3 separate regions of the Homo sapiens genome follow, and all the other regions are reported to be linked to region 3. Evidence: microRNA targets listed by miRTarBase, many of them from high-throughput screens and not tested one by one. Region 3 holds a microRNA gene; each other region holds the end of a gene's coding sequence.

Region 1 (3,257 bases), not on the chromosome of region 3:
GGTGTTGGCTCATTATTCGCACCGGGCCCTGGATGATGATATTCGCCACCAAATGGCCTTGGACTGGGTGAGCCGGGAGCAGAGTGTGCCGGGGGCACTGTCTAGAGAGCTGGCCTCTACTGAGCGGGAGCTGGATGAAGCCCGACTGGCAGGCAAGGAGCTGCGCTTCCACAAGGAGAAGAAAGATATTCTTGTGCTGGCTGCTGGGCAGTTGGGCAATATGCATTCTTCCAACTGCTAGGCATCCACCCACATAACTCCCCAGGCTTTCCACAGCCTTTTTTTATGTCTCCTTTCTAAGATTTAGGATGATTTTTTGTACATACTTTCTCATTTTTATACTTTAAAAAATATATATGTGTATAAATTCTACACCTAGATTCCTATTTGCTAAGAGATCCCTTTTCTTACTACCAGTTTTTGGATGTAGTTTTATTTGAAACATCTTCAGTCCACTTTACAACAAAGAGCAGCTTGTCTTTGCAGCTTTGTTAGCTCTTAAACTTCCAGATTAACTGTGTAGCCATTTCAGTAGCACTAAAAGATTAACTCTAGTGTTCATGTGTCCTTCTTTTCAAATATCAGGTAACTTGAATAAGGATTATGTGCCCCACCCTTACTCTCATTCCTGCTTCCTCTTGGACTCAAACAGGGTATGAGTATGAAGATTTTGCCTTTAGTTCCTGAACTGAACCTGCTTGCTATCCCTTTCCTCCCCACCACTACCTTATTCCTTCTCTGCCTCCAAATTGCCACTTTGTTTTGAGGCTTCCTTCCCTACCTTATTATTCTGAAGGAAGTAGAGATCTTGCTTCTGAAACCCCTCCTAAGAAACTGCCCAGGGACAAGATAAATTACAAACAATTCATGGGAGTTTACTACCTAAGTTGCTTCTAGGGCATATGTATACCATACTAGTAGTCTAGATTTCTGGATATACTCTACAGTAGATGGGGGTTATGGTTGAAACTGATTCTCTTTCAGTATTCCCTCTAAACATCTCCCCTACTCCCCCAGCTTAGTTAAACCCTGCGTTTGGACCTTCCTGCCTGCAGCTATTAGTAGAAAGTAAAACATATTTCCATATTTCCCTTCACCTAACATTTTATTTTTTGGAAGCGTTATCAGTCCTATTTGGTTAGTGAGAACCATGTTCCCCTTATTCCCGCTAAGTTGCTGCTGTTTACTACCTTAGATTCTCATTTGTTTTCTCTTTCTTTCCTCTCCTTCCACATTAATTATTAGAACATAAGTTGATCAGGAAAATTAAATGAGACTTTAGTATTTTGGCACTTCCTAATTGACACCTTGGGAGACTGCAGGAAGGGAAAGAGAATCAATGATCAGTTATTTGTGTGTGTGTGTGGTTTTTTTTTTTTTTTGGAAGACAGAGTCTCACACTTTTGCCCAGGCTGGAGTGCAGTGGCGTGATCTCGGCTCACTGCAACCTCTGCCTCCAGGGTTCAAGCGATTCTCTTGCCTCAGCTTCCCGAGTAGCTGGGATTACAGGCACACGCCACAACGCCTGGCTAATTTTTATATTTTTAGTAGAGACAGGGTTTCACCATGTTGGCCAGGCTGTTCTTGAACTCCTGACATAAGGTAATCCACCCGCCTCAGCCTCCCAAAGTGCTGGGATTACAGGCGTGAGGCACTGAGCCTGGCCTATTTGTGGTTTTTTTTTGGTTTTGTTTTTGTTTTTGTTTTTGAGACGGAGTCTTGCTCTGTCGCCCAGGCTAGAGTGCAGTGGCGCGATCTCGGCTCACTGCAACCTCCGCCTCCCAGATTCACACCATTCTCCTGCCTCAGCCTCCCGAGTAGCTGGGATTACAGGTGCCCACCACCACGCCCAGCTAATTTTTTGTATTTTTAGTAGAGACGGGGTTTCACCATGTTAGCCAGGACGGTCTCCATCTCCTGACCTCGTGATCCACCTGCCTCGGCCTCCCAAACTATTTGTGTGTTTTTTTTTTTTTTGAGACGGAGTCTCGCTCTGTCGCCCAGGCTGGAGTGCAGTGGCGCTATCTCGGCTCACTGCAAGCTCCGCCTCCCGGGTTCACGCCACTCTCCTGCCTCAGCCTCCTTAGTAGCTGGGACTACAGGCGCCCGCCACCATGCCTGGCTAATTTTTTTGTATTTTTAGTAGAGACGGGGTTTCACCGTGTTTGACAGGATGGTCTCGATTTCCTGACTTCGTGATCCGCCCGCCTCGGCCTCCCAAAGTGCTGGGATTACAGGCGTGAGCCACCGCGCCCGGCACTATTTGTGTTTTTAACACCATTCTCCCCCACTTCTCTCCTGGGTGACATAAGAGAGAAATAACCTGTAGTACAGCAGCTAAAGTATTCTCCTTTCAGAGAATTTTTTTGGAGGTCTCTAATATATATTTCCCCCTTGTCTCTGTGATCTCTTATTTATACTATATTATTGTCCCATGTACTTTCTAAACTGAGCTTGGAACATTTAGTATTCCTGCAATTGGACTTCCCACTTAACAATTATACAGACTTTGCTTTTAGAAATAGATTAGGTTCCAAACAGAAAGTTCAAGTGTAACAACAACAATAAAAATAGATTATGAAACAGGCTATAATTGGCTCTTTTGGATTTGATAGGGGCAAGATGAAAGGCAACTTTCTTGCTTTTGAAATCATGTTGGGTAAGAGGTAAGGAATCCAGCTACAATTTTATTAGTGCTTGAAACGGGCTTCCTTGAATTCTCCAGGCCCTATCATTTTTTTTTTCTTACTAATCAGAAGAGAGCTGGGGTAGAAGCCCCATGTTTGTATTCCATGAAACACGTCGGGTTGGAGTAAAGGCAAAAACAGCTAGACACACCAGGTGTGTCTGTTTGACATTTATAAGCTGGCACTCATCAACACTCCTGTTTCTCCTTTCTCTGGGACGTGTGGATTAAGGGGTGTGAGTTGTGGGAAGAATTGCCCTCGTACCTCCTGGATTTATTATTTTTCTCAAATACCAACCAGTAAGATCCCAAATAACTTGAGAAAAATTGTTTCCTGATCTGTCCACTTCTGGTGTCAAAGATTTTACTCATCTTCTTAGTACATTCTATGTATTTTATATGTATAATTTTATACAATTAAAAATAGATTTTTGTCTAGTGAGCCAGACTGACTCTTTCTTGAGACCTATATATTACAAAAGTGAAGGGGTGGGTTGCCCCTCCACACCTGTGGGCGTTTCTCGTTAGGTGGAACAAGAGACACAGAGACAAAGTATAGAGAAAGAAAACT
Region 2 (3,257 bases), not on the chromosome of region 3:
ATATCACTGGCCATCAGAGAAATGCAAATCAAAACCACAATGAGATACCATCTCACACTGGTTAGAATGGCAATCATTAAAAAGTCAGGAAACAACAGGTGCTGGAGAGGATGTGGAGAAATAGGAACACTTTTACACTGTTGGTGGGACTGTAAACTAGTTCAACTATTGTGGAAGTCAGTGTGGCGATTCCTCAAGGATCTAGAACTAGAAATACCATTTGACCCAGCCATCCCATTACTGGGTATATACCCAAAGGACTATAAATCATGCTGCTATAAAGACACATGCACACGTATGTTTATTGTGGCATTATTCACAATAGCAAAGACTTGGAACCAACCCAAATGTCCAACAATGATAGACTGGATTAAGAAAATGTGGCACATATACACCATGGAATACTATGCAGCCATAAAAAATGATGAGTTCATGTCCTTTGTAGGGACATGGATGAAATTGGAAATCATCATTCTCAGTAAACTATCGCAAGAACAAAAAACCAAACACCGCATATTCTCACTCATAGGTGGGAATTGAACAATGAGATCACAGGGACACAGGAATGGGAATATCACACTCTGGGGACTGTGGTGGGGTGGGGGGAGGGGGGAGGGATGGCATTGGGAGATACACCTAATGCTAGATGACGAGTTAGTGGGTGCAGCGCACCAGTATGGCACATGTATACATATGTAACTAACCTGCACAATGTGCACATGTACCCTAAAACTTAAAGTATAAAAAAAAAAAAGAAAACTCAATAACATTTTAAATTTGAATCATGAGGTATTAGTATATTAATACCAGACCCTCTAATAAGTCCAATTTTCTTAACTATTACAAATATTTAAACTATTGTATTAGTCTGTTTTCACACTGCTATAAAGAACTACCTGAGGCCGTGCACGGTGGCTCACGCCTGTAATCCCAAAACTTTGAGAGGCTGAGGCAGGTAGATCACAAGGTCAGGAGTTCGAGACCAGCCTGGCAAACATGATGAAACCCTGTCTCTACTAAAAATACAAAAATTAGCCAGGCGTGGTGGCAGGCGCCTGTAGTCCCAGCTACTTGGGAGGCTGAGGCAGGAGAATCGCTTGAAGCCAGGAGGCAGAGGTTGCAGTGAGCCAAGATCGGCGTGCGCCACTGCACTCCAGCCTGGGTGACGGAGCAAGACTCCATCTAAAAAAAAAAAAAAGAACTATCTGAGACTGAGTAATTTATAAAGGAAAGAAGTTATTGACTCACAGATCTGCATGGCTGGGGAGGCCTCAGGAAACACAATCATGATGGAAGGTGAAGAGGAAGCAAGGTATGTCTTACGTGGCGACAGAAGACAGAGAGAACAAGGGGGTAAGTGGCACACTTTTAAACCATCAGATCTCGGCTGGACTTGGTGGCTCATGTCTGTGATCCCAGCAGTATGGGAGGCCAAGGTAGGTGGATTACTTGCGATCAGGAGTCTGAGACCAGCCTGGCCAACATGGTGAAACTGCATCTCTACTAAATACAAAAATTAGCTAAGTGTGGTGGCAGACACCTGTAATCCCAGCTACTTGGGAGGATGAGGCAGGAAAATTGCTTGAACCTGGGAGGTAGAGGTTGCAATGAGCCAAGTTCATGTCACTGCACTCCAGCCTCGGTGACAGAGCGAGATTCCATCTCAAAAAAATAAAAATAAATCATCAGATCTCGTGAGAACTCACTCACTATCACAGGAACAGCATGGAGGAAACCGGCCCCATAATCCAATCACCTCCCACCAGGTCCCTGGTCCCTCCTGAGGGACATGGGGATTACAATTCGAGATAAGATTTGGGTGGAGACAGAGCCAAACCATATCAAATATGAAACAAACATAGATCTTTCACAAAGTTAATGCCAAATGATTAATTTTATTGGTTGTTAATTCATTATTTCTACCTATAAGGGTCAAATGAGAGAGTTTTCCCATTCAAGCAAATTGGGGCTATTAGCAGAAGCTAGTTGATTTAACCACACCAAATAAGCAGGGTTATCTGCTCAGTGGCTGATATTGAACCAGAAGCTTTTGACAAAGATACCTCTGGAGCAGCCAACAACTAAGATACTTTCTCAGACACAGAGGCAACTTTCGTCCTATTGTACAGTCACTTTGCAATTAGAGACCCTAACCCCATTCTTCTCCAAGTGGGGTTGTCTCATAGACCCCCATTCCCTGGGTGCAAGTTATACATTATCTAATAATACCCAAGATTGGATTCAATTATCTACTGCTTGATTCTAGTCTTAATTATTTTCATATTTTTCTTCTTGGTTAGGGATATAACACTTACAGATATCTTAAAGATATCCAATTCGGGCTGGGCACTGTGGCTTACACACGTAATCCCAACACTTTGAGAGGCCTAGGTGGGCGGATCACCTGAGGTCGGGAGTTCAAGACCAGCCTGACCAACATGGAGAAACCCTGCCTCTACTAAAAATACAAAATTAGCTGGGTGTGGTGGTGCATGCCTGTAATCCCAGCTACTCGAGAGGCTGAGGCAGGAGAATCACTTTAAGCCAGGAAGCAGAGGTTGCGGTGAGCCGAGATCGTGCCATTGCACTCCAGCCTGGGCAACAAGAGTGAAACTCTGTCTCAAACAAACAAACAAAGATATCCAATTCAGTCATGTATATCTTTCTTTGTTTTACATGCTAATGACAGTAGTCTTTTACTTTCATGGCAACTCTTCTGCTTACTATATGATAGGAATGGCCTGGGTAAAGGATATGCTTTATAGATCTCTGGAGTTAGCTCTTTAATGCTTCCCTCCCCTCTTCTGCCCTGCTTTTGAGTGGTGTGCCTTAGCTTGTGAAGGATTGGTTGAGGATGACTTAGGTTGAGGGGGTCTGGGCTGAGAAGGCTTAGACTGGGGAGGCCAGGGCTGGCTTGGCTTAGGCTGAGTAGATTTGCATGGAGAAGGTTTAGTTTGGGAGGGCTGGGACTGACAGGATTTTGTCTGAGAGGATTTAGGTTGAGAGGGCACAGAATGGAAGGGTTTAGGCTGGGAGTGTTTGACTGTGGATGGGTTGGACTGATCGGATTTGAACTGAGAGCTCTTGCACATGGGATGGGACCCTATTTGGAGAGCTGGATTTGAAGCCCCACCTTGTGTCTTCATCTGGACTCCTTGCTGAGAAGCAGGTCTTAGTTTTTGTGTGGCTGCTGCTGGTTGAAAGGACTGAGGGTGAGGCTTTCCAATATGGGATGTTCTTATCAGTTTTCCAGTTGC
Region 3 (3,257 bases):
CCTGCTGGAAGTGCTCTTCCTTTCCTCATCCTCTTGTCAGCAGTTGTGTTTCTCTTGCCTTTTCTGCATATTTCACAGACCAAAGTGCTGGCATGGTAGGTAGGACAATGCATGGATCAGCACAGAACAAAGACAGTAATGCCTTATTTTATGCCTTGCTACTAACTTGGCTTATCAGTTGGCATGACCTCTGAAGATCTTTTTGCTCTGAATGTTTTAATCATCAAGTTCTGGTGGTTATCCAAGGTGATCCTAATCTACTTTGGGGTGGAGGGAGGAAGTGGTGTCAGGAGAGATCAAACCAGGCCACCTTGAGCTGAAAGCTCTGAAGGAGAAGGATTCCTTGAAATGGAGGTAATTTTTGAATTATAATAAGTGAGAAGACTGCAAGGGAGACAAGCTGAGGGACAAATGCTCTGTGCTTTTCTCCTCACTTTCACAAACAGGAGGAGAACTTCCACTGACCTAGCAGTAGTTTGCTCCTCCAGGCTGTCATGTCTTCTGATCATGTCTTTTATGAGGTGAATTTCTCCTCATGAAAGACTAGACTTTAAGGAGAGATTCTGTGCAGGTCCCTACAGTGTGGAGATGGATTGATTGGGCCTACAGATTGCAGCTAATCAATTCATCCTTTGCTTCCCAAAGGTTTATGCATTTGGGTGGAGTTCACAATGAGTGGTCTGGGTGCAGGGCCGTGTGGAGAAGCATGTCCACCGCTCTTGCCCCGGTGGCTTCTTTAGATAATCTTGCAATCTTCACAGGTTCTTTTCTAGGTATGTTATTGTTTGGAATAACTCCCTTGAGTTTGGAAGAAGAAAAGGAATAGTACCAGGTTTACTCAATCATTTGTTAGTTTGCTTGTTATCTTAAAAAATTCTATAAAATTCTTTTGAGAAGTTTCTCTGCTCATTGATCTTGAAAATCTCCTTGCTTTAGAGAATGGATGTGCTCCTCATATGCTAAGGATAAACCAGATTTTGGTAAATCAGGTTATCTTAGGGGTCCCAGGTGAGTTTGCCATTTTAACGATGCTTAGAGTGAATCCTTGTATAAGGGAAAGTATCTTGTATATTCTGTATCCTTTAGGAACTCACGTCTGTTGACTTTATCAGATGTTGGGGTGGTGGTGAGGCTAAAGACCAATAGGCGACATATGGCAGGATCTTCCCTCCAAGTGACCCTCTGGAAAGGGCTATACTTACTTAATTTTGGTGGAGCTCATCATAGGGTCAGGAAACCAGGGAGAAAGCTGAGCAACTGGTATTTATAGATCTTTCTCTTTAAATCAGGTTTGCTCATGATTTGTCTGGTCTTTATTCTTCTCCATGTCTGAAACTGAGTTCCTTGGATTCCCTTCTCTTCAAAGCCCTCTTGGCAACCTTCTGAGGAATGGCAGAGTTCATTCTGATCCACGTCCGGTGAGCGTAGCTCAACCGTGATGGAGCTTGACCTGTCAAATTCACAGAAAAATGTCCGTTACATATTCCAGCTGTTCCTTAAACATGCTCCCTAAGAGCTAGTTCCATTTGTTAGCTGTCAGAACGATGTGGAGGAATTGCTCCAGACCCTTGGATGTCATCAACCACTTTTGTTTATACACCAGTTATTTTCTCTATTAGCAAATCAATGTTTGGCAAAAAGAAAGCACAGGCTAAGAACTTTTCCTGATGAGTTGCTGCCCCAGCCTTGGAACTCTTCTCAGCCAAAAAAAAAAAAAAAAAAAAAAAAAAAAAAAAAAAAAAAAAAAAAAAAAGAAAGAAAGAAAGAAAGAAAGAAATTGAGGAGGAATTCAGTTTTACATGTTTTCCTTCCTGCTTACATGAACAGAGGAGGCCTACCTGAAGCTGAATCCAAGCACTGCCTTTGACGTTGGTAAAGATGGGGCTCTGAGCTCACATATCACCTTGGAAACTGGATCCTGTTACTGCTGGGAAAGGAATGCTTGGTTGCCAAAAGCATTAAGATAGGGAATGTGGATTCCACCTCTCAGTGCTCCTGCCTTGGATCAATTAGGTAGGATACTACCCAGAGATACAGACATGATGGACCAAGTAACTTCTCCAAACTTTGATTCTCTCTGGATCCCATGGATATGGGAACTGTGATGTCCAGGAGATCCAGAGAGAATCAGAGTTTCAGTGAGTGAAACCTAGAGTGTGTGCTGCTAGGATTTTCCTCATAAACCTGGGTGTTTTATTCTTGTGGGCCAGAAAGTTATTTCATTCCTAAACCCGTGATGTAGACTTCTCAGAAATTCCAGTGGTGTGGAGGATCCAGCTTCTATCAGCTCACAAGAGCTGATTGCACATATCTCTCCCCAACTGCTGTTCAGTGGCATCAAGTTGGTAGCTTGAAATCTGCCATGATGAGAGTATTTACACTATAGAAATTGGCAAATATGGCAAATAAGGGTCCCCACCACCCATGCTTGTGAAACATCTTCCAGCACACCAAGGAAATTATCCTAACACGTAACATCACTTATGGGGGCTGTTTAGCTTCAGGGGAGGAAATCCCCTTTGCTCTGATCTCATTGTGTGTACCTGCTTTGCATAGGCAGACTACCCCTTGTTCTCTCATCTATTAAACTCGACCTGAGAGAGAGCTTCATGAGATGGGTTGTGTGACAGGAGATCACTAGGGTAATGAGTCTGTTCCTTTCGCTGCTCAGCTATATGACAGGTTATTTTACCTCTCTAGGCCTCAGCTTCCTCTTCACTATAATAAAAGTAATTTAGATCATTAAATAATTGCTAAGTTTCCTTGTAGCTTCGACATTCTGCAATTTGATGAGTGCTTGGCTGCTGGAAAATGTCATGTGTTTCAAAGGCTTGGGGCACATGCACATCATTCACAGTGACCAGCTGAGCTCTCTCATTTTCTTTCTGGATCTTGGACTCCCAGTAATTCTACTTTTATCTGGACTTCTATCTTCAGCATGAATGAGCAGGGTGCCTCTAAGTGAGAAGCATAATTGATTAGTTCCTTCCATCTGGGGGTGTCAAAGCACTTTCAAGTCAGTAGTCAGTATCCATCATGGTTGCTCTGCAGGGAAGACTGCCTGAGAGTGCCTGTTTTGCAAGGGACATATCACAGTGGTGGACCAAGGACCCAGAATTATTGACTTGTCTTTTAATCAGAAAAGGGGCTACTTCCTGGTCTTAAAGAAGTTCCAGCTTTGAGATTAATCTGCTGTCTATAACCCCAGATCACTTGGCATGCTCGGCCTGGCTGACCTGCTGACAGAACTTGATATA

Evidence for each region. The annotated mature microRNA hsa-miR-4768-3p reads CCAGGAGAUCCAGAGAGAAU and lies in region 3 at 2,109-2,128, shown strand. An mRNA with a match to its seed (bases 2 to 7 or 8) in the 3' UTR can be bound and repressed. Matches are read on the target gene's strand: a 7mer-m8 pairs with bases 2 to 8, a 7mer-A1 pairs with bases 2 to 7 and ends in A, and an 8mer does both.
Region 1: miRTarBase lists LIX1L as a target of hsa-miR-4768-3p. Seed matches in the 3' UTR shown: 7mer-A1 at 1,590-1,596, 7mer-m8 at 1,797-1,803, 8mer at 1,914-1,921, 7mer-m8 at 2,066-2,072 and 7mer-m8 at 2,295-2,301.
Region 2: the mRNA of CARD6 is a reported target of hsa-miR-4768-3p. Seed matches in the 3' UTR shown: 7mer-m8 at 2,527-2,533.

The regions. Positions count from the first base shown.
Region 1 is chr1:145,933,294-145,936,550 of GRCh38, reverse strand. It overlaps LIX1L (limb and CNS expressed 1 like), which reads left to right. Exons shown (of 6, transcript NM_153713.3): 6 at 1-3,128. The coding sequence ends at 241. The region is part of intron 2 of LIX1L-AS1 (LIX1L antisense RNA 1); the gene reads right to left. Among named protein-coding and RNA genes, the nearest start is that of RBM8A, 7.4 kb to the right of the region's middle.
Region 2 is chr5:40,853,973-40,857,229 of GRCh38, reverse strand. CARD6 (caspase recruitment domain family member 6) reads right to left here. Exons shown (of 3, transcript NM_032587.4): 3 at 1,876-3,257. The coding sequence ends at 2,784. Among named protein-coding and RNA genes, the nearest start is that of CARD6, 14 kb to the right of the region's middle.
Region 3 is chrX:17,423,819-17,427,075 of GRCh38, forward strand. MIR4768 (microRNA 4768) reads left to right here and starts at 2,063; the gene lies at 2,063-2,136. All of the region lies in intron 1 of NHS (NHS actin remodeling regulator), which reads left to right.